Homo sapiens: one gene and its partners. The protein of the gene in region 1 purifies or fractionates together with the protein of each later gene. This does not show direct contact. Each region holds a gene or a part of one and is shown in the gene's direction. Other genes may lie near its edges. The genes, in order: FAM241A, LECT2, SEMA3A, AGPAT3, KLHL26, MAN1A2 and TPBG.

Region 1 (3,178 bases):
TTACAAATGTTTATTAATTTCAGGTGTTTAAAATGCTTTCATTACCAATTTATGGCTTTACAATTGAAGGGAGAAAAAAAAATGTAAGACGGCCAGGCGCGGTGGCTCATCCCTATAAAAGTGCTGGGACAGCACTTTGGGAGGCCGAAGCGGGCGGATCACCTGAGGTCGGGAGTTCGAGACTAGCCTGACCAACATGGAGAAACCCCGTCTCTACTAAAAAAAAAAAAAAAAAAATACAAAATTAGCTAGGCGTGGTGGTGCATGCCTGTAATCTCAGCTACTCAGGAGGCTGAGGCAGGAGAGTCGCTTGAACCCGGAAGCCAAAGTTTGCAGTGAGCCAAGATTATGCCCTTGCACTCAATCTGGGCAACAAGAGCGAAACTCCATCTCAAAAAAAAAAAAAAAAGACTTTCATGCCTGGTAATAGAGTTGGCCGAGAAGAATATAAACTTATTTACAAACTATGACTTCAGGAGTATTGGTGGATTAGAGGTCATTTGCAACTCTTGTCTCTCTGCCCAACATTTAATTTTTGGTATGCGTTGGAGTTCAGTCCAACAGCCTGCTCTCACATCACTCCACACAGCAGCTCGGCAATGTCACCACTCCCGTGGCTGCAGAGTTACCATTTGCATCCTAACAGCTCCCCAATTTGCATCTCTAGATCAGAGCACTGTACAGAATTTAAGACTCCTACATTCAATTGCTTGCCCAATATTTATTTGCATTTGGTTATCCCATAGTACCCAAGACTCAGCGTGTCCAAACGAGCGCAGCATCCTTCTCCCAAATCTTTAATTCCTGTTTCCCATCTCAGCAAATGACACAATCCTTTCCCTAACTGCTCAAGCAGGAGTTGTAGATGACATCCTTGACTCTGTGTTTCCTACACTACCTACATGTAACCAAGTACCAAATCTATTTTACTTCTAAAAATATAATCTTTCTACTTCTATTCATTCCTAGCATCACTGAGTCCATTCTGCCATCATCTCACCTGGCATGCTGAGAATCCTGATTAGCCTCCCTACCTTCATTTTCCACTTTGTAGTTACAGATCTTTCTAAAGAATTATTCTAACATGATTCTGATATCCTTGACCTAAATCTTTTCAATGGCTTTCTGTTTTCGTTATGATAAAGTCCTTATGCCTTAATATGTTTTACAAGGCTCTTCATGTACTGGTTCTTGCGTACCTCATCTCTCTATACTGCCACTCTCCATTTCCAGGATTCAACTATACTGAACTTTTCCCCAGTTCCTTTAAAGAGACATGCTTTCTTACTTCCAGAACTTTGTACATGCTTTACTTCTTTAACTGCTCCCTACCAGACTGACCAATATCTACACAGCCTTAAGACCTCAAGTGAGACATCATGTCCTCCAGGGAAACTTCTCTGACTCCTTTAAATCCAGTTTTGGTTCTTCATTATGGCTTGGTTTCTCAAGTGCAACCCTGTGCTTTCCAGGTCAGCACTTCTCATGCTATATTGCAATAGCTTATTTGTCAGCTGCTGCTTTAATAATTGATTAATTATTAAATTAATCAATAGGCTTCACAAGGGAAGAGAACATGTCTGTCATTCTATAATTGCATTGCTAGTGCCTAACACAATGCCTGGGACATAATAGGCCATCAAAATATTTATCAAGTAAACCCACTTCATCTACTCATGGTCTTCATATAGACCACTAACAAAAAAGATCTAGAGCTGGTTGTACTTTGAAGTTCTTTGACTCCAAAAGTATACTTACTGTGCACAAAGAGCATGGGTTGATGTATACATTATAATTTATAAAGCTATTCACTTCTGATAAAAGAATACTGCTGTTATTTGGATACATACACAGTATTTCCACTATACACTTGTGTATTTTAGGAGAAAATGTATTTTCAATGTTTGGTTGATTCACTATTTTTCCAAAAAGGATATTTTACAATACCTACGGTCACTGATACTACCAGAACTTCACTTTTGTTCAGTATTTTTTAATAGACCTTTATTTACTACATTTTAATTTTTTAATTTTTTTCTTTTATTTTATTGTTATTATACTTTAAGTTTTAGGGTACATGTGTACAATGTGCAGGTTAGTTACATATGTATACATGTGCCATGCTAGTGTGCTGCACCCATTAACTCGTCATTTAGCATTAGGTATATCTCCTAATGCTATCCCTCTCCCCTCCCCCCACCCCACAACAGTCCCCAGAGTGTGATGTTCCCCTTCCTGTGTCCATGTGTTCTCATTGTTCAATTCCCATCTATGAGTGAGAACATGTGGTGTTTGGTTTTTTGTCCTTGCGATAGTTTACTGAGAATGATGATTTCCAATTTCATCCATGTCCCTACAAAGGACATGAACTCATCCTTTTTTATGGCTGCATAGTATTCCATGGTGTATATGTGCCACATTTTCTTAATCCAGTCTATCATTGTTGGACATTTGGGTTGGTTCCAAGTCTTTGCTATTGTGAATAGTGCTGCAATAAACATACGTGTGCATGTGTCTTTATAGCAGCATGATTTATAGTCCTTTGAGTATATACCCAGTAATGGGATGGCTGGGTCAAATGGTATTTCTAGTTCTAGATTCCTGAGGAATCGCCACACTGACTTCCACAATGGTTGAACTAGTTTACAGTCCCACCAACAGTGTAAAAGTGTTCCTATTTCTCCACATCCTCTCCAGCACCTGTTGTTTCCTGACTTTTTAATGATCGCCATTCTAACTGGTGTGAGATGGTATCTCATTGTGGTTTTGATTTGCATTTCTCTGATGGTCAGTGATGGTGAGCATTTTTTCATGTGTTTTTTGGCTGCATAAATGTCTTCTTTTGAGAAGTGTCTGTTCATGTCCTTTGCCCACTTTTTGATGGGGTTGTTTGTTTTTTTCTTGTAAATTTGTTTGAGTTCATTGTAGATTCTGGATATTAGCCCTTTGTCAGATGAGTAGGTTGCGAAAATTTTCTGCCATTTTGTAAGTTGCCTGTTCACTCTGATGGTAGTTTCTTTTGCTGTGCAGAAGCTCTTGAGTTGAATTAGATCCCATTTGTCAATTTTGTCTTTTGTTGCCATTGCTTTTGGTGTTTTAGACATGAAGTCCTTGCCCATGCCTATGTCCTGAATGGTAATGCCTAGGTTTTCTTCTAGGGTTTTTATGGTTTTAGGTC
Region 2 (4,826 bases), on another chromosome or scaffold:
CTAAGCTGGATTTTGTAGGGGCAACTGTGCTCTGCATGGCATCCATTCCCTTCCCAGGGCAGCAGGATCATCTGCCTCACGGCGATGTAGAAACACAGGAAGGAGTGTGCAAAGACTAAGGCCCCAGAAGACCCAGGCTTTCCCGACCCACTGCCACTTCTGCCTCATCTTAGTGGTCAAAGCTACACAGCTAAACCCAAAATCAAGGGTGAGGAAAGTTCCCTTTGCCCCCATGAAACATGGCAAAGGTGTGGATGCAGAGAGGGTGAAGAACTGGGGCTACAATCCCAATCTCCCACAGCTACTGGCACATAATTTAAATGGGGAAGCTTCCATAGAAAATTCCAGGTGCTCATCTAATATTAAGCTAAAAAGGAGCTGCTAACATATATTTGAAACACACTGAAAATTTAATTCCCCAGAAAAGTACAGGGTAACATAACATCCATGTGTCTATCTCCAATAATTAACAAATTAATATTTTAACATATTTGCTTCTGATTTTTTTCTTTTTTTAGAAATAAAATATTTTAGAGTTTATGTACTCTGTATATCCTTCCACGGTTTTATTTCTCTCACTATCCAGAAGTAATTAGTACCTTAAAGGTAGTCTGTGCATATTTTTATTATACATACAGCATTCATTAAGATTAATATACTTGTTTTCAGATTTTACATATTATAAATAGTATGATACTATATATATAATTCTAAAAATAGCTTTTTAATTCAACAGTATATCTAGAGATCTAGCTGTGTTAATACATGTAGATTGTCTTCATTTAAATTGTTATATTTTACTCTGTTGTATGACTGTATTATTCTGTTCTTGCATTGCTATAAAGAAATACCTGAGATTGGGTAATTTATAAAGAAAAGAGGTACAGAAAGCATGGTAGCTTCTTGGGACGTCTCAGGAAACTGAAAATCATGGCGGAAGGCAAAGGGCAAGCAGGCATGTCTTACACGGCTGAAGCAGGAGGAAGTGAGAACAGGGGAGGTGCTACACACTTTTAAACAACCGGATCTCACCATAACTCACTCACTCACTATCAGGACAACAGCACTAAGGGGATGATGCCAACCCATTCATGAGCACTCTAGCCCCATAATTCAATCACCTCTCACCAGGCCCCACCTCCAACACTGGGGATTACAATTGAACATGAGATTTGGGTGGGGACACAGATCCAAACCATATCAATGACTATATTATAATTAATCTTTTTTCCTTTATTGATGGATGCTTTTAATGGTGTTAACTTACCATTATCATAAACAAGAAAACATTTAAAAATCACATATTTAAGGTGAATACATGCAATTTTATTAAAATATTAAAGTTATTTGCAAATATTACACAGGTGAAATATAATTAAACTGAGAATTCAAAAACACCTAAGGGATATATTAAGGAATATGTTATGAAGGGCTACACATTATTAATGACCAATTTTCTTCTGAAATATGTGCTATCAAGGAAATAAAAGAAAGATCTACCAGCAGGCAGCACTAAATATTCCATCATTCGCACGAACATTCTCCTACAAGCCACAGCCCAGAAGACTGTCGATATGCACCTAGCCTTATCATTTTCTGTTAATATTTAGTCAGTATTTCCAATATAATTGGCTTCTTCTTCAGATCAAAGGCTTTTACATAGGCCCTACCTGCAAATCAAATAGCTATCCATGGAATATTAGAACTTGACTTGCTCCATCCTCTTAAACTTTTTGTGTCTCACACTAAAGAAATGAGAGATGCAGAATTCTAAGGCTAAATAGCTAGGAAGTATTCATTCAAACTTGAATATTCTTCAAAGAGAGTGTGGGGGCAACTCTAATCAGAGGAAGAAACTAAAGGAAGTAAAACCAGATGTTTTCCACCAAAGCCCTCCTTTTGGCTGGTCTGATTTCTACCGGTAAGTCGAAAGTGCAATTTTAGAATATTGATTAACTTTTAAAAACTGATTTCAGGGGAAGACTAAAAAGATTAAAAAGTCATTAATAGCATGATCACAACAAAGACTTGTGTATTTGGCTATTAAAAATGAAATAGGAATGACACATGGTCCTGAGGATGTTTTAAGTAATTTAAATGGAATGTTCCGGTTCTTTAATGAGGGAAACATAATAGTGGGTTGAGAAGACATTACAAAGCCTTTCAGTCTGAGTCTGGGTCTGGGACTTAACTAGAACAAAACTAGATAATAAAAAGTTGATATAAATATTTGATTCTGATTTTGATCAAAATCAAATTCTGATACAGATACTAATACAGAGACTGGTATGGATTAAGACAAAGGGATGGCTCCCTTAATACTCACCGAAGGAGGAAAAAGTGAATAAATTACTACACTGTCTGATATTTGCCTCAATTCCCAAGGATAAATATTAGTTGCCAAAGTGATGGGATTATATCTTGATCAAGGTGTTGATTTGGAGCTTGGCTCCAAGGCATAAAACTTTTGAAACCCACCTTTTAAAAGTATTTTAAAGAAGAGGCTTAATGGCCATATTCTGTAGGTTCTCTTCACAGGATAGGTATTAATGAAGAGTAAAATGTCTTTAAATAAAATCAATAGTCAAATTACCAGGCTCTCGCTTTTGCTTGTTTGTTTCAAAGTGCAAGGTTGAGTGTGCTCACTGTATCTCTCTGTGAATGTTAACACTGGAAATCCAGGACATTTAATTCCATTGAACATTTATTAAGTGCTTACTATAGTAAAGAAACAAATTGTGCCTGAAACAAAGTTTGCACCAAGTCTGCTGAGAAAGCAGCCCCTCCTCCACGTTTCATAATTTTTCATATAATTGGTTCTACTCCTTCTCCTACCTTCACCCCTAATCTCAGTCTAGGCTAAATTGGTTTGACATTTCAGATTATTTTTAAGAATCTCCCTCTTCCATGTTGGCAACTATGAGAGATTTATCTAGTGTTAAACAAACTTGGCTAGTACAGAGTTCGTTTCTCCTTTAATTCAAACATTTGCTTGGATTTGATTAGTGGAACTAACCATTTCAAAATTACAATTTCTAAAATTATTTTCTGAGCCATGCTATTTTATTATTTTTGCTTAATCTAAAAATAATGATCCCCATGGCAGATAATGAGCAAAGAAAAATAGAAAAGCACAACTTATACCATTTACTAATGGATCTGAAGCAAAGTATAATGATGGAGGCCAATGCTTATAAAGAAACACATTCAGCTGGGCGCAGTGGCTCACGCCTGTAATCCCTGCACTTTGGGAGGCTGAGGCAGGCAGATCACGAGGTCAAGAGATCAAGACCGTCCTGACCAACATGGTGAAACTCCGTCTCTACTAAAAATACAAAAATTAGCTGGGTGTGGTGGTGCGCACCTGTAGTCCCAGCTACTCAGGCGGCTGGGGAAGGAGAATCACTTGAACCCAGGAGATGGAGGTTGAAGTCAGCTGAGATCACGCCACTGTGCTCCAGCTTGGCAACAGAGTGAGACTCCGATCCAAAAAAAAAAAAAATTGTATTCACTGATACTCTAACGTCACAAAGCAGAATTCTGTGGCCAGGGAAAAAGCCAATTTTACATCTGAATCAGGAAATAAAATTCTGGAAGGACGATCTTCCCATAAATACATAAAGTCCAGGGAAAACTACAGTGAAAACAGAATTGTCAGGATCAACTGTGTGACTGATAAGGCAAATGGGGATAGGAAATGTCTGAGGCCAGGAGCTCTGCTCTCACTTTTCTCCTTTTTAGCACTGGCAGGGCCATGGGCTAATATATGTGCTGGCAAGTCTTCCAATGAGATCCGGACGTGTGACCGCCATGGCTGTGGACAGTACTCTGCTCAAAGGTATGAAGTTGCACAACCACCCACCCAACCCTTTGGTCCCTAACCTCTTTTCTTAGTGTCCTTGCCCAACGTTGGTTGCCTCAAGGGCTCACAGTTCTGACAGCATGAAAAACCAGAGATGTAACCAGTTACATCACTGTCTTTGGAGCAGCTTCCAAGAACTCTGCTTCAAGTATGAGCTATAAATTGGGATCAGAATGTGGAAGAAGGAAAAGATCAGGGAGCAAACACAATGTTTTCCTTCTGAATGTCTTCACACATTCACTTATCTCAACTGTTTTTTTCCAAAGGGTTATTAAACACAACTATCCCATTTTATAGAAGAGAAACTTTAACTGAGGTACCAAAGGGTTAAGGGACCTGCCAAGCACAGTTGGAGATGGTGAAGCCTGGACCTGAATTCAGGCTTTTGGTTCCTCTTCCCACCAAACCACGCGGTTACTGGCTCAGGCTCTGGATGTTGAATATTAGAGGCTGGCCCTAAGCAGGAGAGAAAGCACCACTATCTCTTCCAGAAAATGAGGGTCACACTTGTGAATTTTCAGTTATACCCAACATCACCTTGGGGTGCCACTTTCTAATGAAATAGCCATGTGTCCAGTCATATCACTGATCTCCATCCTAACTAGAGGGGAACTCTCACATATACAGATACTACTTACAAAGCAACCTCAAATACTGAAACAGGACTAAGAGAAGGGAAATATGGGAAACGTCCCTTGAATTGCCAAAATTCAGACTCAGCTTATACTGCAAAGTTTATGCACTTGATTGATACAGTAAATTCTTGGCTCTTGAGCTTGCTCAGTGTTGCTTTGTACATAATTGCAGCAATCCTGGTGAACCTGATCGTTCAGGTGACAGCCTATTAGAAGGTAGGGGAGGCTGGTGAGAGCAGGCATAGTGACAGCAGCGGGAAGCAAGAGCTGAGGGGTTGCTAAGACGAACTCAAGGCACGTCACAATCTAGAATAGTTTGATTTGGGCTC
Region 3 (4,786 bases), on another chromosome or scaffold:
TCTGTTTGATGAGTCAATCTAGTGAAGTAGAGAGAGAATTCCTACTCCCTTTTCCCCATTCTCCCCCTCTTTAAATCCTCCTCTTCCTCCTTCTCCACCTACATTCACACAAGCCACACATCCAACGGCAGAGAGGGAGAGACAGAGAGAGAGAGAGAGAGAGAGAGAGAGAAAGCAGAGCGAGCGAGCGCTGTGCTTTCTCTATTGGTCTGTGGACATTAAGTAATGAAAGCTGTAGTGACAATGCTTAGATCATTTTCTTAAGAATACTAAGCCACTTTCAGTAGGTGTTTATGTTTTTAATTGTGAGACTCACTCTCTCCCTTCAGCCAAGAAGTTTCCCTACTATTGAAGTTGAGTCTCTGGATTCCAAGTGCTGTTCTGGAGGTGGGGGGTGGGGAGTGGTGGTAGGAGGGGGTAGGGCAGAATCATTTGGGGAATAAAGGAGAGAAAGTTCTGTCCTGTTAACTTTTTTATACATCCCCTAAAGATTCTTGTAAAAATATCAGCTTTGAGGAAAACTGAATGAAAAATAAGAGAGAAAATTGAGAGGCCACAGCCAACTACTTGTTTCAGAAGGAACTAATGGTGTTCATATGACTGCCTGAATACATGCCTATACGTCCCACAGAAAATTTAGTAACCCTTCAGCAGCTCATGAAGACACAGAGATATTCTTTTCATGTTACTCCTTGACACTCAGCAGGGACTTTTGTGAACTTTGTCATCTTCCGCTGCCCTTTAAACCAAAACTAGGGAAGTGTCTTTAATTAATGAGATGTGATGCATTGAAAATGTTAGCCAGAGCATTCCAGAAGCTGGAAAACCATAGACGTTTTTAAATTCTGAGTATCCTTTTGAGAATCCCCCGTTGTAATTTATAATTCTCAAAGGACCTATATTTGTCTTGAACTGATTGTTGGAATGGGCTTTAGTAGGAATTTCTTCCCTGAAATTGCAGTGGGACAGAGGAAGGGGGTGGTTGAGCCCAGGGGGTTTGTTGGGAGGAGGGAATGATCTCTAACAAGGCTTTAAAACCTTCAGTGGTTAAAGTTGTATTGATGAGGATATATAGACACACACACACACACACACACACACACGCACACATACAATGCACAAGTTCAGCAGGATTGTATAATGAGCATGAATTGTAAATTTTGTAGGTAGCAGAATTCAGATTTTTAAAATCAAAATTGCACCCAAAAATGGCTATAAAACAACGCTTGCCTTGGGAAGTAAATTTATAGCTACATGCCTTTCACAGGCACGCCTGAGGGTTCTGCTCCCGGCTCTAATCTCTACGAGATGTTTTTTGCATGTGTTGTGTGACAGGAGGGAAGGGGAGTAGGTTGAGCTCGCCTGTTCTCCCATTGTCAGCCAGTCTAGTGAGTGTTGGGGAAACCTGTCTGTGGGATCTTGTGTCATCTCCCTCTACATGCGTACAGGAAAAGTCCGCGCTGCTCACGGTTTCTCTCTCTCTCTCTCTCTCTCTCTCTCTTTCTCTCTCTCTCTCTCTCTGTTTCCCTTTCATTCTGCTTCCCCGGAGCCGAATGAAGCAGGGAGCAGGATTAGAGACTGCCACCGGCTATCAGAGGAGCTTAGATAAAAGGAACTGCTTCTTAAGCACCACTGCAGCAGACCTTGTTAATTTTTTTTTTTTTTCTTTCCACACAACAGTTGTGCCTCATTATCCGGTGCCTGGCTCGGAATTTTTTTTTTTTTTTTTCTTTTTGGAGGGTTTGAAGTTTCTGTGCTTCAGTGACTGTTACAGAAGAAGAGGTGTTAGTGTTGCCATGAGGTCTTGATTGTCTGCATTTATGAATGAAACTGACCTAAATCACCTGTTACCTCCAGTTTCCAGATTGTTTGAACTTCTCTGGCCGCACAATACAGGAAGGAAGACTAAAGCAGCAAAGGGACCTACAGCGTCTGCAGCATGGGCTGGTTAACTAGGATTGTCTGTCTTTTCTGGGGAGTATTACTTACAGCAAGAGCAAACTATCAGAATGGGAAGAACAATGTGCCAAGGCTGAAATTATCCTACAAAGGTAAATCTTATTTTTCTTTTATTTGGTTAGCTTTGTAATAACCGCCCCCCCCCTTAATTCCTTGAACTCCCTCCCAACCCCAAATCATCAAACCTTTAGTTTAACCTGGTAAACCGACGTGATTATGTGTATCTTTCTGAGATGCTTTAAACGCTTTTTGTAAAAAGCATGTCTTCTGTTTGATATATGACAACTTAAATGCAAACAAAGAACATTTAATCACATTTGCTGAAAAGAGCTGTATGCCTGGTACACGCTGATCTGTATATCTTATTATCCTATCTTATGCCTGTTAATTTTTCCGACTTTAATTCTATTAAAATATTTTCTTAAAAATAGAAATGCAAAAATGGTCTCTTTGTAGATGTGCATGCCTTACCTATAATTACTATGATGAATTGCATTTTCTTAGTTTTAGACATGAAATGGTTAATCGTCATCATGAATATTCAGTTTGTTCAAATCTGACAATCAGATGCTTAACATAAGCAGTAGATCATGGTTTGCCAAGAGAACATAAACTGGATGGAACAGACTAGTTTTTCCACAGTGCCTTATGATTGTACAAAAGACTGTATTTGGCTAATTGTGTAAAGCTAAAGTCTTTGAAATATTATGTTATTTAATTCTATATGTACTTCAGTGAGAACTGCAGACACATTACTGTCTGCTTGCATAGGTAGTTGTGTAAACTTCTCTTTTGAAAAGTATAAATTAAAGAGAGAAAAAAGAGCTTTATCACTAGTGCTTTATTTGGTTACAATTTAATGTATGTGCTTATTTTTATTGAGGATTTTTTATGTTTGTTCCACATTTGCTTAGATAGGTCTTATAGATAGATGATGTGTAAAGTAATGCTAAAGTAGAGCCCAAAATGATATACATACATTTAGTGGCAGTAAATCTTTCTATAACTCAGGTATTATTAAAATGGAGTTGAAGATTAAACTGTTTTAACTCAAGTAGTTTTACTCCCTAAGGTGTTGATTTCTTATGATTCTCAGATTTCTAAAATTGGGGGTGGAGCAGTGAGAAGCTCTAATTAAGCTTATTTTTTAGCCTATAAGTTAAAATAAAAATTATTGAAGGTATTTGTAGAGATGTCTGTCTACTGTACCTTGCTCTTATGCCACAAAACATATTCTTTAATTCTCATATGATGGGGAACATCTTTTTCTGAATGCCCTAGTGTGAATGAGGATCTCAAATCAGAAGAGAGATGTAATTTTCACACTTTGAATTAGAAAATTAAACACCTAGTAATGTGTTTCTTTGGACTTAGTGCTCGTTAAATGAAATGCATTGAATTAGAATATCTATTTACTTTTTGGTGTAATGTTTTCCTGAGTATCAAGTTGGGAATAGAGACTTAAACATCAACAAACAGAAGTGCAATTGTACTTATGTAAGTTTTAAAAAATCATGTAGCGTTATTTAATTAATTTAGTAACTGTCTTTAAATTATTTCCATAGTATATGATATTATGGTGTCTGTGTTTTTATCAGTTTTGCTTTCTGTTTTCACTCCTTGACAAGGTGACATCAAATAAGTCTAAGTTGATGGTCCACTTTATCCAAGTTTATGTTCCCTATAAGTTTTACATGCAACTTTAGTTCTCAAAGATGTGACTGGCTATTTGTAATACTTTTAGTTTAACAAGTTTAAAATCATGATATATATTTTAAAAATCTGCTAGGCTTGAATATATCTAAGTGCTAAATTCATTTTAAAATAAAATAAAAATAGGGAATTAAACTTTTTTATTTTGCAAGAATTTTATTTCCATGATAATAGGTTACTCTCCATGATAGAGGAGGCACTTGTTCTTTCTGTACATTAAAAATATTACATTTAATTTGAATATCCTTTGTTGTACACATATGCCTTAAACCTATCTGATGAAGCAAGCAGTATATATTAGCAAGGTGTATATATTTGATATTGTCTTTATAAGCCTTGTTTTAGTGATGGCATCCATTAGAATTATTCTGCTTTCCTTTAAGTAAAAAACTGCTTTACAGCTACATAACAATCCCATTGATACACCTAGAGCTTAATAATTTGGTAAAATAAACTGTGAAATGAACAACAGGAAGAAGAATAAAAGGAATGGCCTGAGGAAATTTTTTTCTGTTATTTTATTAATCTGTCATTACCTTTTTGTCTCTACATGTACGTTTGTTTGGCCAAAGCAAGTATGTGGTAGCCAATTGCCAGTACTTTGTTTCTAAAGTACAATAGAGATTTTTTTAAAGCTACTTCTTGTTTCTCCTTAATTAGATGTCAAACACAGTTAAAACATCCACTGCATTGCCCTTAAAAATATTCCAGCATGATTCATGAAGAGTTAAATCCCTGCCAACCTTAATTTCCCATGGTCACTTGTTTTCAAAGATCCACCATTAACTCTCTCATTGCTCAGGTTGCCAAGATGAAGTTTCTGGCAATCACTGTGCTTACTTTCTACTTATCATTTTTGCCTGGTAGGAGATGAAAGAGACTTGACATGTTAAAAAGAAGTAAAAACAGGAAAGTGGCCTTTGTAGCGGGTGTACATATCTAATAAGATACCTCTTTACTTTCTAGGAAAAAGGAATTGAATAGATGTGTTCAGGACCATCTGGAGAAGTGATAATATTAGAAAAATGGGGTATGCTGGCTTTTCCTCTGAACCAATTTGATTTAGAATCCTTATGGGGGAAGAAAATGTGAGAACTCTGTAAATCTCAGCAGT
Region 4 (4,027 bases), on another chromosome or scaffold:
GCTAATTTTTTTTATTTTTAAGTAGAGATGGGCTTTTGCCATGCTTCCCCAGCTGGTCTTGAACTCCTGGCCTCAAGTGATCCTCCTGTCTCGGCCTCCCAAAGTGCTGGGATTACAGGCTTGAGCCACCGCACCCGTCCAGAATTTTAGATTTTTTTAAATCCGTGGTTGAAAAATAGGCTATGGCTGGCTTACTCATTGTGCTTTAGGGAAGCATGTATTTGAGTGAAGGAAATGATAAAAGGAATTTCATATCGGGCCCAGGCGCCGCCCACCCTGCAAGACAGTTTACAGATGCCTGCCCTGACAGCTGTCTGCAGTTAGCCAGCGTCAGCCGAGGGGTCCTGAGATCCGCTGAAGGCTGCCTTTGCATGCCGACAGCAAGGGAAAAGTGCCACATGTCCCTGGGCTTGCCACAGGTGACCTTTGGATGGGACCATTCTCCAGACAGCGCAGCTCGTCTTTCCAGAACACTCATGGGGAGTGTGCCTGTGTCTGGCTGGCTGTGTGGGCTCCCATTCAGTTCATTCCCCTTCTCCAGCCTTTAGGCATGACCCTAAAGGCAGAGGTCTCAAGCACTTGCCAGGGGTGAGCCAGCGGTGGGGGCGCCCCTGCCAGGGCAGGCCTGCTGTGGGGGCTTGGTCAGCGAGTCTTCTCCCCACACGCAGGATTTCCTCCCGTCCACTGCCTCTGCCCACAGGTGACCTTTCTCTTTTAAAGGAATTGGGGTCCCTTGGTACCCCCACAAACCCTGAGTTCCCTCTCTCCTTTCTGCGTCCTTTCTGCTCGCCTGCATGTGCCTGCAGCATCATGACCGCTGGGAAGACACTTCCCTGCACCTGCACGCTGTCTGCAGGCGTCTCTGGCCATCCTGGGCTGAGCTGCGTGATCTCGGGTAGCGGCCCTTTGTTCACCCGTGCAGGATGTCTTTGGAATTGGTCTCTAGTGTCCTTTATAAATAACTGGTATAAAAGAACCCCGGGCAATGGCCTTGCAGAAAGCCCACACTTCAGAGCTGGGCTGGTGTCCAGCGCGAGAAGCCTGAGGCCGTCCTGAGCTGGAAGCCGCGTCCTGGTTCTGTGGGGCCATCCTTCCCGGACAACTGGCTGGGGGGCACAAGACTCTGGTGGCCGACAAGAGGCCCACCTGCTTGGCCTCCCTCTTGTCCTTCCCCACATGGCCCTCTGAACAGGACTAACTCCCTCTGAGGCCCACGTGTGACAAAGATGCACCGTTCTCACCACGGAACTCTTCAGCCCTGCAGTTCTCCCGAAGGTGAATGAGGGCATCCCAGAGTCCCCATCAGGAGACAGACGATGCTGCGTTCCCAGCAGCCCCAGAGCCCTCCCAGGCGTGCAGGTCTCCTGCCGGCAAACAGATCTCCCGGCACGAGCCCCTCCACACTTCTGGGAAGAGTGTCTTCAGCTCACCAGGCCGGAGCCAGGGGAAGAGACCAAGGGAGGAGGCTCCAAGAACCCCTGGGTGGGGGGGACAAGCACTCAAAGCCAGGACTGGCACCCCTCACATGCCAGCACCCACGGGGTCAGGTGTGCCCTGCTGTCTCTGGGGACCCCGCAGGCCTCTGGCCACCTGCCCAGCAGCAAGCCCCGTCGAGCACCCCCAGCCGGCCTTCCTGGGGGCGGGCTAGGCCTCACATGGCTTTTTTTTAAATATGGAAAACCAGTGTAACCCCAAAGCAAGTTTTAGGAGAAAATATAATTCCTATTACTCTGTCGTCTATAATTCCATTCTGCTCTTAACTCTTCATTTTTTCCCACTGTCTGTTCTGCAGACATACGATGGTTGTTTTCTGCTTCCTAATCATCTAGTGACATTTTTCATCTTCTGCACCTCTCACGGGGCGTGGCTGTGCGGTACTCGGCCACACCAAGGTGCACGTGAGAAGCGTAATTGGGCGTAAAGATCAGCGTCTCCATGCAGAGTGGCGGTTCTCTCCCTTTCTGCTGCTACCTTCCATCTGTCTCCTCCCAACTGTTGCTTAGAGAAAGTTATTGTAATTTCATAAAACGTACTCAGTGTAAGTCATCAAAACTCATGTTTAGCAGAGACTTCCTCTCTGGACAAAAATACTGTAGGTGTCTCCTGTGGGCGCTCCCTGACCATCCCAGGAGGAGGGGTCCTACCAGTGCCAACGCCCTCCCCCTGTCCGCAGAACTGGTCATGCTGCTGGAGTGGTGGTCCTGCACGGAGTGTACACTGTTCACGGACCAGGCCACGGTAGAGCGCTTTGGGAAGGAGCACGCAGTCATCATCCTCAACCACAACTTCGAGATCGACTTCCTCTGTGGGTGGACCATGTGTGAGCGCTTCGGAGTGCTGGGGGTGAGCGGGGACCTGGGGAGGGCCACGGGTGAGCAGGAGGGTCCCGGGGAGGGCCGGGGGTGAGCGGGGACCCAGGGAGGGCCGGGGTGAGCAGGGGGTCCCTGCAGGGCTGGGGGTGGGGTGGTGACTGGGAGTGAGCTGGGCGGGGTCCCAGGAGGGCTGGGGATGAGCAGGGTGGGGTGGTCCTGGGGAGGGCTGGGGGTGAGTGGGGGGTCCCAGGGAGAGGCTAGGGTGAGCACCTTCCAGGGGAGGTGCTGGGAGTGAGCGGCAAGGGTCCTGGGGAGGATCTGGGGGAGTAGGCGGGTGCTGGGGTGAGCAAGAGGGCCCTGGGTGGGGGAGGTACTGGGTGGAGCAGTGGGGGTCCCAGCAGAGGAGCTGGGAGAGCCTTGGGTTTCCCAGGGAAAGGGCTAGGGGAGCAGGGGACTCCCTGAGGAGGTGCCGGGGAGGCCCCTGGGGTCCGAGTCCCTGGGTGTTCCTCCTGGGGCGTCTCTTTGAGCTCGGCAGTGGTGCCTGGCTGGTTGAGGGGCCCTGGCCCGCAGGGCCTCAGCTGTCCCCGAGCTGTGCCCTCCTTTCTCATCATGGCCTTTGCCTTTGAGATGACCCCACCTGCGTCCCTGCAGAACCACTTCCGTTAGCTAAGCTGCCTCAGATGAAACCTAAACTACTCCCCGATGCTGGCAGAAGAATTTCATTGCAGTCAAAGCCCCTGTGTGAGGCAGCACCCCCAGGCCACCCCCCGGAAGCCTGGCAGCCTCTGCATCCGGCTCATCCACCTTCCCTGAGGGCCCTCCCAGCCAAGCCTGAGCCTCAGTTTCCTCATTTCTGGGGCGACCCACTCACCCTCAGAAGCCGGGTCCTGCTTCACAGCAGACCCCCTGAGCCACAAAGCCGTGACTCCTAGAGCGACACCACACAGGAGCTGGGTGCAGCGGGAGCCTGGCCAAGCCCCTGGCCTCTGTCCGACGCTGAAGTGCCAGGTGCCCCTCCTTCTCCTCCCTCCAGAGCTCCAAGGTCCTCGCTAAGAAGGAGCTGCTCTACGTGCCCCTCATCGGCTGGACGTGGTACTTTCTGGAGATTGTGTTCTGCAAGCGGAAGTGGGAGGAGGACCGGGACACCGTGGTCGAAGGGCTGAGGCGCCTGTCGGACTACCCCGAGTACATGTGGGTGAGTGCGCGGAGCAGCCCGATACCCTGCATGCCTGGAGGAGGCCACGCCAACTCCTGATGCACGGCTGCCCACATCCCAGGCTGGGAAACCCCATGAGAGCCTCTGCACATGGGGTGCTGTTTCCATGGGGCCATGACTCCCCCATCTGAGCTGCAGGCGTGGAGGCTTCTCTTGGGCCACCTGCTTGCTACTCGCCGCAATCCCAGCTCTGACCAGGCCATCCTAAGGGGATCTGGCCGGGGGAGGGGGCAGAGCAGGGTGCCCCCAGTGAGCCCTGGCTCTGCCCGCCCTGCTCAGTGTGCATCCCCATTCTTTTTCTGTCCCTTCTTCCTGGTCTGTCTTGGAAAATGGGCTGCCTGTGCTGTTAGCATTTCTGTTTTTTTGTTTTCTTGTTCGTTTTGTTGTGTGTGTTTTTGTGTGTGTGTGTGTGTTTGAAACGGAGTCTCGCTCTGTCGCCCAGGCTGGAGTGCAGTGGTGCAATCTCGGGTCACTGCAACCACCACCTCCCAGATTTAAG
Region 5 (4,027 bases), on another chromosome or scaffold:
CGTCAGGCATCACCAGGGCATGAGGAGGAGGCCTGGGGAGGACAAGCTGCTTCCTCCCCTCTTTGGTCCAGCGTGGGCCCTGTGCCCTGTAACCAGCAGTGGATGGGCCTCACCCTGCTTTCTGGGCCTGGGGTGTCCTAAATTCCAGATGGGAGCATCCAGATTCTCCGAGTGTGTAGTCGTCACGTGCTAGTGGCAGCCTGGGTCCCAGGGCTCTGCGTTTGCTCATCTCATCCTCCAGCGGCCCTGGGGCTGGGGAGCTGGATGGTCATTTGCCCCTGCTTTGTAGCTGAGGCCTGGGTGGTTGAGTGACTGCTGAGTTCCCAGCTAACCAGAGCTGGCTTGGCCCAGGCTGCTGGCCCCTGATGTCTCCTCTGAGATGCCCTGCCAGTCAGCTGAACTGATCCTGCCTTCTGGGTTCCGGGCACCCTCTCTGCTTGCTGGGGAACCCACAGATCCCATGTTTGGAACACTGGCCCACCTCCCTGGTTTCCTGTTCCTCAGTCATCAGAGTAGCAGGGTGCAGGGCAGTAGCTCCTCTCCTCCCCAGAGGGAGGTCCTCTCTGTCCAACTTCTCAGTTCTCCAGATATGTTCTGTGCACTCATGGGCAGATGCATATGTGTGGCACTTTGAGCCCAAATAGCATCCCACTGTGTGCACTCTGCCTCTTCCTTCCTCCTGCAGCCTTGACGTCATCCCCTGCATGCAACATCTTCCCCAGGATGCGTCAGCCTCCTCACCCATCTATAGGGCAGCCCTCACTCAGAAGGTGCTGTGATTCCACGAATCTCCTTTAAGGGTGGTTAGCTTATTTCTCGTCTGTGGCCCCTAGAGATTGTATTTGGGTAAGTTTCAGAAATAGAGTTCTTGGGTAAAGGACATGAGCCTTTAGAGTGTTGCTGAGTCTACGCAGCTGCCTTCCTGGGGGTCACCTTGCTTCATAAGCCCCCCGAGAGTGTGCTTCCCTGACTGCAAGCGAGGCTGACTCTTACGTCCTTCTAGCCAGCTCTGCTTGCTTTCCTGGGAACCATTAGCCCACATTCTTTGTGCATCTTTCGATCTCACTCTGTCACCCAGGCTGGAGTGCAGTGGCACAAATATGGCTCACTGCAGCCTCCACCTCCCGAACTCAAGTGATCCTCTCACCTCAGCCTCCCAAGTAGCTGGGAACACAGGCTCATGCCAGCATGCCTGGCTAATTTGTATTGATTTCTTGATGCTCTTTATATATGGAAGAGCATGGTAAATATGCTCCTAAGGACTGAGTGGCCCCGTGGTGAACTTGTCCCAGTGCAACGTGTTTCTTCTGATGAAAATGTACACATGCACACCTGCCTCCAAGGGCTTTACAGGAGGCACGAGAAGTCCTCCCATCCCTCCCCGCAAATCTCCTTGAACTTCTAAGGAAAAACCAGACCAAAATCAAAATGGCAAAGGCTGGCAAGGCCCATGCATACTTCTGGGAGACAAAGTGTCCACAGAAAGGCCGGCAGGGGTCACCCAGAGCCCGAATGCACAACCCTTGCCACAGCTGCAACACAAAGCTGATTCTGGGTGATCTGACCCCTTTTGGTCCCCATTGCCTGGACCGCGTGCCCATGAGGACGGGGCCTACTTCGTCTCATTTACGCAGCATCCCTGCATGCACGGGCAGGGAAGAGGAGTTTGCAAAGCCAGTGAGGCAAACTGGGGACAAGGAGAGACCTTGAGGGTCCTCAGAGGCACATGCAGGATGCGGCTTTGGCCCCAGGCAGCCTGGACACCCGTCGCAGGGTGTCGGTGAGAGGGCATGCCATTCGTGGGAAGCAATGAGACCCTGCCCTGGAGATGTCCAGGCAGGTGCTGGACCCCTGTGGGGGGCTGGATAGGGGAGAGCGGCCCATGAGCCTGCGACATGCTCCTCACAAGCCTCGGATCTGGATCTGTCATGGGTCTAGGGAAAAAAGAGCCAAGGCTTGGCTCAGGGCAGCAGCCTGGTCAAGTGGGATCGGGGCCGATGTGTGGGGAGGGGAGGAAGGGAGGAGGGGAGGTAAGCGTCCCTTCCACTTGGCAGGGGAAAGGCCACGGGGACAAGCCAGAGTCTCAGGGTGCACCTGGACCCCTTTCCTTCCCTGCCCTCCTCAGCTTTCAAAAGGCTGCACCCCCACCCTCCCAGGCAAACACCAGGTCTGGGCTCCAGCACCCCCAGCACCGCAGCATTGCTGGCCAGCCCAGATGACCGTGGCATTGGGCTCTGAGTAGCATATGTCCTGCTTCCCCAGGGACTCAAAGGCTTTCCACTGAGCACAGGCCCCACACTGGGTCCTTCGTGCTATGTCCCCACCCTCTAGGACATGCAGTGCCTCGCAGGCAGGGCTGGGGCTTGGGCAACTTCTCTGCCTGTGGTGCCTTGCAGGGCTGTGGTCAGCGCCTGGCCCTGAAGCCCCTCTCCCCGGCAGTTTGTCTTGATCACTCACCCTTTCCCAAGGGTCTCTGGAAGGGTGGTCTGAAGGGGAGGTCAGGGACCTCCGGTGGCAGCTGCTATGTTGACTGAGTGCCCACTGTGTGCCCTGTGTTTGACGTTGGCTCTTTAATGCCCACTGTGGTTTTGGGGCTGGCTGGCAGTGGGGCCAAGGAGCCTTCCGTCTCCTCCCGCTTTCTTGGAAAGATCAGTGCCCGCATTCCTGGCCTTTGCTTACAGGCAGGCGTGGGTCCCAGGAATGGGAGAGCAAATTCCAGAGGGCAGAGGCCACCAGGACAGAGCAGGGTGCCTCAGCCCGGTGGGGGTGGGGGTCTTAGAGGGGACTGATCCTGGAGGTGGCACCAGGGTCCACCCCCTGTTGTGTTCTGAGGAAGAAGTGGTGTGTTAACGGCTCCTAAGCTATTAATTCATTGATCCGTTCAACAGTTTCCCCAAATGAAATAGCAAAGGGGTGGTGGGGCTGGAGAAGAGGGGATGAGGGGGCAGTAGGGGCAGTGGGGGCTGGACCACAGAGGGCTCGTATACTCTGGGGTGCAGGGGGCTGTGGCGGGGCTTGCAGGGGACTTGAGAAGGCTCCCGTGTGTCCTTTGGTTTTTTTATTGAAGTGAAATTCACGTGACATAAAACTGTCTGAAAGTGGACAATTCAGTGGCATTTAGTAGATTCACAGTGGTATGCAAACACCACCTCTGTCTAGTTCCAGAACATTCTCATCCCTCCAAAAGGAGACCCCACCCCATCAGCAGTCACTCCCCCCTCCCCTCCCCCAGCCCTTGGTGGCACCCATCTGCTTCCTGTCTCTGCGGATTTGCCTGTTCTGGGCATTTCACGTCAGTGGAGTCATACACAGTGCGGCCTTTTGTGTCTGGCTTCTTGCACTGAGTGTTGTGTTCAAGGTAATAGTGTGTGTGTGAACCTCTGGGCCATGTCCCCACCTCTGCTTTCCCCGCAGCACGGCCGACAAGAACGGGGCCCTCAAGTGCACCTTCTCGGCACCCAGCCACAGCACCAGCCTCCTGCAGGGCCTGGCCACCCTCCGCGCTCAGGGCCAGCTCCTCGATGTTGTGCTGACTATTAACAGAGAGGCCTTTCCTGCACACAAGGTCGTCCTGGCTGCCTGCAGCGACTACTTCAGGTAAGTGCTGGCCCCAGGCAGCTGGAAGGGGCGGCTGCCTGTTGGGACAGGGACAGGGCAGATGGCACCCACTTTCTAAAGGGGGCCTGTCTCAGCGCTACCCAGGGACAGCTTCGAGGGAGAACGGCTGGTACCGGCTGCTCTTTTTTTTTTTTTGAGATGGAGTCTCGCGCTGTTGCCCAGGCTGGAGTGCAGTGGCACAATCTCGGCTCACTGCAACCTCCGCCTCCTGGGTTCAAGCAGTTCTCCTGCCTCAGCCTCCCGAGTAGCTGGGAGTACAGGCACCCGCCACCATGCCCAGCTAATTTTTTTTGTATTTTTTAGTAGAGACGGGGTTTCACCATGTTGGCCAGGCTGGTATTGAACTCCTGACTTCGTGATCTGCCTGCCTTGGCCTCCCAAAGTGCTGAGATTATAGGCGTGAGCCACC
Region 6 (4,027 bases), on another chromosome or scaffold:
CTGTCTTAGCCTTCTGAGTAGCTGAAACTATGGGCATGAGTTGGGACTACAGGTGTGAACAACCATGCTAGGTTAAGTTTTAATTTTTGTAGAGATAGGGTCTTACTTGTTGCCCAGGCTGGTCTCAAACTCCTGTGTTCAAGTAATCCTTTTACCTTGGCCTCCCAAAGTGTTCGGATTACAGGTGTTAGCCACTGCACCCAACCGAATCTTATTTTTATCGATATGGATACTTTCAAATTGGAGCTCATGCCTAAGATTGGAAAGTTGGTAATGCAGAAGCTAAGTATCTTCTAGAAATCAGTAGTACATGGTAAACATTAATTGATTTTTTTTTTTAAGTGAAAGCAAGTTTATTAGAGGAGGAAAGAAACAAAGGATTATAGGCAGAGCAGCCAATTTATTTTTAACTGGGCAAATGTTTTGTTTACTATTGTTTGAAAATTATAGAATATTTAACTTATGTGGGAGGTGGAGGTGGGAGGATTGATTGATTGAGGCCAGGAGTTTGAGACTAGCCTGGGCAACATAGTGAGACCCTGTCACTGCACATACTCGCACATGCACACAGCTGGGCATGGTGGTTGGTGCCTGCCTGTAGTCGGAGGCTGAGGTGGGAGGATCACTTGAGCCCAGGAGTTCGAGGGTGTAGTTAGCTATGATTGTGTCCGTGCATTCCAGCCTGAGAGACAGAGGCTCTGCCTCTTTAAAAAAAATTAACTTCTGGTTTGGGCTGACTCCACATATTTCTTGGATAGGAAAATCATATTGCTACTTTTATTTTCCCTAGTTGTGCAAATTCTGTCAGAAAAGTTTATTTTCACTGCTATTGAATTTTTGCTAGAACTTTATTCCTGTTAAAACATGGTTGTAATGAAGTCTGCACTGGAGTTTTATTTTCAGATTGGGTATTAGGATTTGTCATTAAAAAAAAAATCTCCTTCAAAGGGCATTCTTTCCAATGATCTGTTTTTGAATTTAATGTAGTCCAGAAGGAAGGCATCATTATATATTAGAAAGAACATTGGACTCAGTGTTAAGAGACAGGGGCTTTAGTTTCACCATTGTCCTTGGTTGTTGAAGTATATTTAGATATGCTATTCAACTTCTCTGTGCCTCGATGTTCTTATTTATGAAATGAGGGAATTGATTGAATCTTTAAAGATTTTTTTCTAGCTCATGCATATGAAATACAAGTAATTTTATGAAGTAGGGAACTGAAGAGTGTGCAGTAATTTAGTTCATACATCTCAAATATTACAAAGATAAAATGTATTCTAAAGGAATTAGTGTCTTTTTTGTATATAAAAATTAGTTTAAAATCACTTTGGAAATGACTAAAATTTATTTACATAATATTATTATTTACATAATGAAATCTATACCGATTTAAAATGTGAAAATGAACGAAATGACTTTTATACATTCTTGTTTCTTGTTAGTTTTAAAGTATAGTTTATTGAGCATTTGATATGCCAGCCTGAATGTAGTGGGTATATTTACAAAATTGTTTTCAGGTGTCATTTCTTGAGCCCAGTTATCAATTACACGTCTTCACCTGTTACCTGAGACTTTAGGATAGATTCTGTGGAATACAGTCCTTGACTGAGGCCTCAGACCCTTTGAAGGCTCTTACTACTCCTGTGGCACAATTTTCTTTGATTTAAGGCTATAATTTCCTTTTTTAAAAAAATTTATTTTAATTTTTTAACAAAACACACCTCTCATGGGAAGGACTATAATTTCCTAACCTTAATATTGAGAGATTCCACTGAAAGTGTTCTCTCCTGTTCTCCATATCTTAAGAACAACTTTTGGGACAAGTTATACAAATAGTTTTTTTAAAAAAAGAGGAAATTAAGTAATCTGGAGATTACAAAGAACACAGGTGTTGTTTTTCCTTTTGACTTTTTAAAAAAATATTTATATAATCAACCTGTTATGTAGCTCTCTTGGCCTCCCCTTAGTGATGTTGATATTACCATTAAAAAATATTAGTCACAATCATTTGTTCAGCAAGTGTTTTGAGTGTTTATTATGTACCAGGCATTTTGCTAAATATTGGAGATTATTAATGAATGTTACAGAAGATTAATTTTGACTATTGAAAAATTCAGATCTTAGACTCACGTCTTGATATTTTTCTTAAAGCATATTATTATGTTTGGAGCCAGATTCCAGGGGTCTTAGAGATAACTTTCCACCTATGGGAGGTTCTGGTACAGGCATTTAGGTCATTGGCATTTTTTAAGAGTTCAGATAAGTTATTCTATCTCTCCCCATTTTTGTTTTCTTTTTCTAAGATGTATTTAAGATAATTAATTTATGTTTTTTTTTTTTTTGAGACGGAGTCTTGCTCTGTCGCCCAGGCTGGAGTGCAGTGGCGCGATCTCGGCTCACTGCAAGCTCCGCCTCCTGGGTTCACGCCATTCTCCTGCCTCAGCCGCCCGAGTAGCTGGTACTACAGGCGCCCGCCACCACGCCCGGCTATTTTTTGTATTTTTTGTAGAGACGGGGTTTCACCGCGTTAGCCAGGATGGTCTCGATCTCCTGACCTCGTGATCCGCCCGCCTCGGCCTCCCAAAGTGCTGGGATTACAGGCGTGAGCCCACTGCGCCCGGCCCTAATTTATGTATTTCTAATATACGGTCTGGGTTATCTGGTATAAGGAAGATGGATGCTGCGGTCAAGAATAGGTCGAGGCAGACATCCGGTCCAGCATGACTCAAGTGAGTTTGGAGTGCAGGCATACAGCTCCGCTTATTATGTAACCATGTCATGTGAGGCGCATTAGGTGATCACCCATGTGAGTGTGTGCTTGGCTTGGAGCCACTATGGTCTGTGAAAGGTCTAATTACCCTGCTAACGTGGTACAAAAGGCTCGCGCCAAGGCTCGCTCACGCCCAGAGAGTAAAGCCATGTTGAAACTATGATTCCTCTAGTGTTTTTCCAACTACCTGCCACTCACCCACCAACTCTCCTCAGACCTCAGTTACAGCCTGACATCTGGAAAAAAGAGACAAATATTTTGAAGCGTTTTGGTAAGGAATCAGGCTCTGGCATCTGAAAAGAATTCCTAACATTGTGTGAAGTTGAGATCTGGTACCTTTGTATGTACAGTTGGCCCTCTGTATCCATAGGTTCCACATGTGTGGATTCAACCAACTGCAGGTTGAAAATATTCAGAAAAAGTTAAAGATGATTGTGTCTGTACTGAACATGTACAGACTATTTTTTCTTGTCATTATTTCCTGAACAATACAGTATAATCACTATTTACATTGCATTTACATTATATTAGGTATTATAAGTAAGCTAGAGTTAATTTTAAGTACAGGAGAGGTTGTACATGGGTTATATGCAAATACTACAGTATTTTATATAAGAGACTTAAGCATTTGTGGATTTTGGTTTCCAAGGGAGGTCCTGGAACCAATTCCTCATGGATATCAAGGAACAACTGTGTTTATATTTAGCCATATATACATGAACATATTTACATATGGCTATATATGGTTATATCTGTATGTTTATAATGTTATACATGCATACATGACTTTTTTCCAATTAGTTGGCAGTCAGGTGGCATCTGATACAAAGTTTGTATGTGTTTGGTGTGTATCTGTTAAATATAATAAATGAGGATTATTTTCTATTAATTTGTGTTGTCATTAATAAATATGTTTTCATGACCTAGATTTTTTTCTCTCTACATAAAAAGATTGGTAACACGCTGAGTAAGGTGAACATTGAGCCTCTGGCTCTTCTTCAGTGCCGTTGGTGTAAATGTAAATTAATAGAATTTTCATAAAGAGCAATTTATTTATATCAACTAACTTATAGTGCATATTCTTTGATTCAGCAATCCTTCTAGGGATTTATCCTTGGGAAATTTTCACAAAGAAGTGTTCAAATCACTTCTTTCACAAATCCGTGTGAAACTGAAGTTTCACAAATCAGTGCACAAAGAAGTGTTCAAGAATGTCCCCTGAAGCTATAACATGACATATTGTAAGTGACCTAGATG
Region 7 (4,789 bases), on another chromosome or scaffold:
AGTAATTAATTTTATTTTTAAACTTATCATACAGTAAAATTGACTCTTTTGGTTTACAAAGTTCTATGAGTTATAACACGTTGTATAGGTTTATGTAACCACCACCACAATCCGGATACAGAACATGACTACAGCTTTAGAGATTCTTTTTCAAAGTGTTTTACATTCATGTTGCAAAACACTTTTAAAAATAAGAAAAGAGATGTAGATAAACGTGCTGAAGATGCAAATTAATGAAACCAGCTTTTGTGCACAAATCTCTGCAGTTTCCAGTGTTTTCAGCTTTTGTCTGAGCCATTTTTGCTGTCGGCTTTGCAGACTATCTCTTTCTATAAAAGTAATCAGGCGTCCGTTGGAGAGTTGGGGTCTTTCTTCACACTAAAGGCACATGTCCCAGGCACAAGCCTCAGGATCCTTATTTGATCTTTTTTAATACGACCAGGTCTTAAATTTCCGAACCATGTTTTCCCTAATTGCCATTTTCTCTCTAAAATGAAGAAGCCTGGAAGAACCTTCTTATCCCTTCGGGGAAATTATTTAATTGGGACAAAGGGGATGTGGAGTTACAGAGAGCAACGATAGGGCTTTCAGAACCCAAAACCTGTCTGGTATAATAACAGATCCTTCCGGTAACCAACCATTCAATTTGTCCCTCTCCCCAACCCCATCCTCTCCATCACCATCTGCCAGATGCCCCCTGGGACAATCGACTTTGAAACCAAACTTCTCTCCCAGGTCAGCTCCTGCAATCCCCACTCCTCATCCTTGGAGCTTTCTCCACAGAAGTGACTTGACACACCGCGCTACATCTGGGGAGGGGGGCGGGTCCGCTTTCCGGGAGACTCAAGTCTTTGCTATTTGCCTTTTGTTTCTGGGATGCCTTTGGCTGCCTTTCTCTTCCATCTGCTTTTAATTTTGGTAAGAGAAAAGCTAATGAATCAGGAATGAATCTCCTCTCCACTAATCTTTTTTTTTTCTTTCTCTCTCTCTCTCTCTTAAAGTTGGCGCGCTCTCTTCACAAGTTCCATCACTACCCAAGAAGTGAGGGGGCGGGGGGGACAGGCGGGAAGGCATTAATTACACCTAAATCTGAAGTTTGCGGCCTCAAGTACCACTTTGATGGGGAGAGCTTCTGAAGCTTCCATACAACCTGCCGTGCCTTTGCTGCTGCCGCAGTAGATTTTCAGCTCATTTCTTTCTGCTGCTGCTTCGCGCTGCTCTGTCATGCCTAAATCTATCTCGTCACTGCCAAAGGTGCCTGAATCAGGGTGAATTCCACGAGATTCACCAGCGGTTTTGCTCCAGTCCAAGGTAAATACAGTATGCAAAATGAGGAACCACCCAAGGATGTCGGGGAGGGGGGAGAGAAAGGGATTCCCTCACCTTTTCCGGCACATTCCTCGTTAATTTCCACCAGGAGGAGGCGCGCAGCCCAGCTCCCCTAGTCTCTCTTCTTAAATCCCCCTACCTACGGCTGCCGAGGTTGGCCGCGCGTCGGGAATCTCCCCGACAGTCCTGGCCCTCCCCCGCCCCCCGGGTTGGTTTTTCCCAGCTGCGGAGGTTGGGAGGTTGGGCCAGGGGCTGGGGTGCGAAGAGAGTCGGCGCCCGCAACGCGGAGCCGGGAAGTCGTCGCTACTCTGGTGGAACTCAGAGTTGGTTCTGGAGGCGGCGGACGCGGAGGTGAGCAGTGGGAGCCCGCGGCCTGGGAGAGACCCGGGAGGCGTCGTTGGGGCCCCTCCCCATCCTCGGGTGGAGAGTAGGGTTGGTTCGGGTTGCCACTGTACCCCGAGTCCCACTGCTGCTTTGTTCCCAGACTCTCCCCTCCTCTTTGGAGATGACTTGAACCCCTTTGAGATCCGAGGGGCTGGCGGGGCGCGGGCTGGGGGGCGACAGTTGTAGCTCCACTTCCTGCTAATGCGAGAAGGTACAAAAAGAGATCAAAAAGTCCTGTAACCTGAAACTTCCCTCGCATCCTAACCGGGACCTGGTGGAGAGGTCTGGGCGGGGGCGGAGACACCCGGAGGCCGACCTTCCGCCGAGGCGGTGCAGGAAGGAACGGGAGAGGGAGAAGTTTGGTAGGGAAGGAATTGGGGATTAAGCGGTAAGTTAGACGCGGGAGACGAGTCTCCTCGGGAAAGGCGGAGGGCGGGAGGCCGGTCGGGTTTATTTAGTGTGGGCCAGGGAAGAAGGAAGACTTTGCGGTCTGGGTGTCGGATGCGCGTCCCCCTCCGGAGTAAAAGTGACCGGAGGGGTTGGGGAGGCGAGGCCGGGGCGGGCTTTTGGAAGGAGGTCTCTGGGACAGACTGGAGACGACTAGACTCGAAAAGGCCGGTTTTTGCACTCCGGAAGCCGCGGCAGCCACCGCTGTTCACGCCTCTCTCCTGCTTGTCCCAGGTCCCTCAGAGGATCCAGCGAGGGGCGCCAACAAGAGGCGAAGAGGTGGCACCAGGGCGGCGGCAGGAAGAGGAGCGGGAGCAGGAGCGCGGAGCGGAGCGTCCCGACCCGCCGTGCGTACTTTCTGGAGGGAAGGGGCGGGGGAATCGGCCCCTGAGGGAAGCGCCCGGTGGCGAGGGGGTTAGCCAAGTTCCGGCTGCGGCGCCACTCCCTCGGTTCCACGAGAGGAAAGTTTTTTTTTTCCAGACGCTTCCGCCGGCTCGCGCCCTCCGGGCCCAGCCTCCCGAGCCTTCGGAGCGGGCGCCGTCCCAGCCCAGCTCCGGGGAAACGCGAGCCGCGATGCCTGGGGGGTGCTCCCGGGGCCCCGCCGCCGGGGACGGGCGTCTGCGGCTGGCGCGACTAGCGCTGGTACTCCTGGGCTGGGTCTCCTCGTCTTCTCCCACCTCCTCGGCATCCTCCTTCTCCTCCTCGGCGCCGTTCCTGGCTTCCGCCGTGTCCGCCCAGCCCCCGCTGCCGGACCAGTGCCCCGCGCTGTGCGAGTGCTCCGAGGCAGCGCGCACAGTCAAGTGCGTTAACCGCAATCTGACCGAGGTGCCCACGGACCTGCCCGCCTACGTGCGCAACCTCTTCCTTACCGGCAACCAGCTGGCCGTGCTCCCTGCCGGCGCCTTCGCCCGCCGGCCGCCGCTGGCGGAGCTGGCCGCGCTCAACCTCAGCGGCAGCCGCCTGGACGAGGTGCGCGCGGGCGCCTTCGAGCATCTGCCCAGCCTGCGCCAGCTCGACCTCAGCCACAACCCACTGGCCGACCTCAGTCCCTTCGCTTTCTCGGGCAGCAATGCCAGCGTCTCGGCCCCCAGTCCCCTTGTGGAACTGATCCTGAACCACATCGTGCCCCCTGAAGATGAGCGGCAGAACCGGAGCTTCGAGGGCATGGTGGTGGCGGCCCTGCTGGCGGGCCGTGCACTGCAGGGGCTCCGCCGCTTGGAGCTGGCCAGCAACCACTTCCTTTACCTGCCGCGGGATGTGCTGGCCCAACTGCCCAGCCTCAGGCACCTGGACTTAAGTAATAATTCGCTGGTGAGCCTGACCTACGTGTCCTTCCGCAACCTGACACATCTAGAAAGCCTCCACCTGGAGGACAATGCCCTCAAGGTCCTTCACAATGGCACCCTGGCTGAGTTGCAAGGTCTACCCCACATTAGGGTTTTCCTGGACAACAATCCCTGGGTCTGCGACTGCCACATGGCAGACATGGTGACCTGGCTCAAGGAAACAGAGGTAGTGCAGGGCAAAGACCGGCTCACCTGTGCATATCCGGAAAAAATGAGGAATCGGGTCCTCTTGGAACTCAACAGTGCTGACCTGGACTGTGACCCGATTCTTCCCCCATCCCTGCAAACCTCTTATGTCTTCCTGGGTATTGTTTTAGCCCTGATAGGCGCTATTTTCCTCCTGGTTTTGTATTTGAACCGCAAGGGGATAAAAAAGTGGATGCATAACATCAGAGATGCCTGCAGGGATCACATGGAAGGGTATCATTACAGATATGAAATCAATGCGGACCCCAGATTAACGAACCTCAGTTCTAACTCGGATGTCTGAGAAATATTAGAGGACAGACCAAGGACAACTCTGCATGAGATGTAGACTTAAGCTTTATCCCTACTAGGCTTGCTCCACTTTCATCCTCCACTATAGATACAACGGACTTTGACTAAAAGCAGTGAAGGGGATTTGCTTCCTTGTTATGTAAAGTTTCTCGGTGTGTTCTGTTAATGTAAGACGATGAACAGTTGTGTATAGTGTTTTACCCTCTTCTTTTTCTTGGAACTCCTCAACACGTATGGAGGGATTTTTCAGGTTTCAGCATGAACATGGGCTTCTTGCTGTCTGTCTCTCTCTCAGTACAGTTCAAGGTGTAGCAAGTGTACCCACACAGATAGCATTCAACAAAAGCTGCCTCAACTTTTTCGAGAAAAATACTTTATTCATAAATATCAGTTTTATTCTCATGTACCTAAGTTGTGGAGAAAATAATTGCATCCTATAAACTGCCTGCAGACGTTAGCAGGCTCTTCAAAATAACTCCATGGTGCACAGGAGCACCTGCATCCAAGAGCATGCTTACATTTTACTGTTCTGCATATTACAAAAAATAACTTGCAACTTCATAACTTCTTTGACAAAGTAAATTACTTTTTTGATTGCAGTTTATATGAAAATGTACTGATTTTTTTTTAATAAACTGCATCGAGATCCAACCGACTGAATTGTTAAAAAAAAAAAAAATAAAGATTCTTAAAAGAATTACAGTGTGTGCAAGTTTGCTTTGAAAAAAGGATGAAGGGCAGGAGTATTCAATGGTCTTGGTTCCGATGATAATTATTACTTAACA

The links.
Region 2: the proteins of FAM241A (region 1) and LECT2 purify together in Homo sapiens (co-immunoprecipitation; one large-scale study listed by IntAct). This does not show direct contact.
Region 3: the proteins of FAM241A (region 1) and SEMA3A purify together in Homo sapiens (co-immunoprecipitation; one large-scale study listed by IntAct). This does not show direct contact.
Region 4: the proteins of FAM241A (region 1) and AGPAT3 purify together in Homo sapiens (affinity purification with mass spectrometry; one large-scale study listed by BioGRID and IntAct). This does not show direct contact.
Region 5: the proteins of FAM241A (region 1) and KLHL26 purify together in Homo sapiens (affinity purification with mass spectrometry; one large-scale study listed by BioGRID and IntAct). This does not show direct contact.
Region 6: the proteins of FAM241A (region 1) and MAN1A2 purify together in Homo sapiens (affinity purification with mass spectrometry; one large-scale study listed by BioGRID and IntAct). This does not show direct contact.
Region 7: the proteins of FAM241A (region 1) and TPBG purify together in Homo sapiens (co-immunoprecipitation; 2 studies listed by BioGRID and IntAct, with this or other methods). This does not show direct contact.

What each region holds. Positions count from the first base shown.
Region 1 is NC_000004.12:112,190,306-112,193,483, forward strand, and holds part of FAM241A (uncharacterized protein FAM241A), read left to right. Parts: 3' UTR 1-3,178.
Region 2 is NC_000005.10:135,951,883-135,956,708, reverse strand, and holds the start of LECT2 (leukocyte cell-derived chemotaxin-2 precursor), read left to right. Parts: upstream 1-1,725; 5' UTR 1,726-1,875; coding exon 1,876-1,921; intron 1,922-3,741; coding exon 3,742-3,838; intron 3,839-4,826. UniProt on the Homo sapiens protein: Has a neutrophil chemotactic activity. Also a positive regulator of chondrocyte proliferation. Does not show metalloendopeptidase activity.
Region 3 is NC_000007.14:84,191,740-84,196,525, reverse strand, and holds the start of SEMA3A (semaphorin-3A precursor), read left to right. Parts: upstream 1-1,736; 5' UTR 1,737-1,939; coding exon 1,940-2,051; intron 2,052-4,786. UniProt on the Homo sapiens protein: Involved in the development of the olfactory system and in neuronal control of puberty. Induces the collapse and paralysis of neuronal growth cones. Could serve as a ligand that guides specific growth cones by a motility-inhibiting mechanism.
Region 4 is NC_000021.9:43,965,773-43,969,799, forward strand, and holds part of AGPAT3 (1-acyl-sn-glycerol-3-phosphate acyltransferase gamma), read left to right. Parts: intron 1-2,173; coding exon 2,174-2,343; intron 2,344-3,345; coding exon 3,346-3,507; intron 3,508-4,027. UniProt on the Homo sapiens protein: Converts 1-acyl-sn-glycerol-3-phosphate (lysophosphatidic acid or LPA) into 1,2-diacyl-sn-glycerol-3-phosphate (phosphatidic acid or PA) by incorporating an acyl moiety at the sn-2 position of the glycerol backbone.
Region 5 is NC_000019.10:18,660,847-18,664,873, forward strand, and holds part of KLHL26 (kelch-like protein 26), read left to right. Parts: intron 1-3,414; coding exon 3,415-3,597; intron 3,598-4,027. UniProt on the Homo sapiens protein: May play a role in endo(sarco)plasmic reticulum (ER/SR) mitochondrial signaling. May be part of the ubiquitin-proteasome system (UPS) and affect ubiquitination and degradation of target substrates in cardiomyocytes.
Region 6 is NC_000001.11:117,373,588-117,377,614, forward strand, and holds part of MAN1A2 (mannosyl-oligosaccharide 1,2-alpha-mannosidase IB), read left to right. Parts: intron 1-4,027. UniProt on the Homo sapiens protein: Involved in the maturation of Asn-linked oligosaccharides. Progressively trim alpha-1,2-linked mannose residues from Man(9)GlcNAc(2) to produce Man(5)GlcNAc(2).
Region 7 is NC_000006.12:82,362,229-82,367,017, forward strand, and holds the start of TPBG (trophoblast glycoprotein precursor), read left to right. Parts: upstream 1-1,588; 5' UTR 1,589-1,680; intron 1,681-2,015; exon of another isoform or gene 2,016-2,101; intron 2,102-2,394; 5' UTR 2,395-2,733; coding exon 2,734-3,996; 3' UTR 3,997-4,789. UniProt on the Homo sapiens protein: May function as an inhibitor of Wnt/beta-catenin signaling by indirectly interacting with LRP6 and blocking Wnt3a-dependent LRP6 internalization.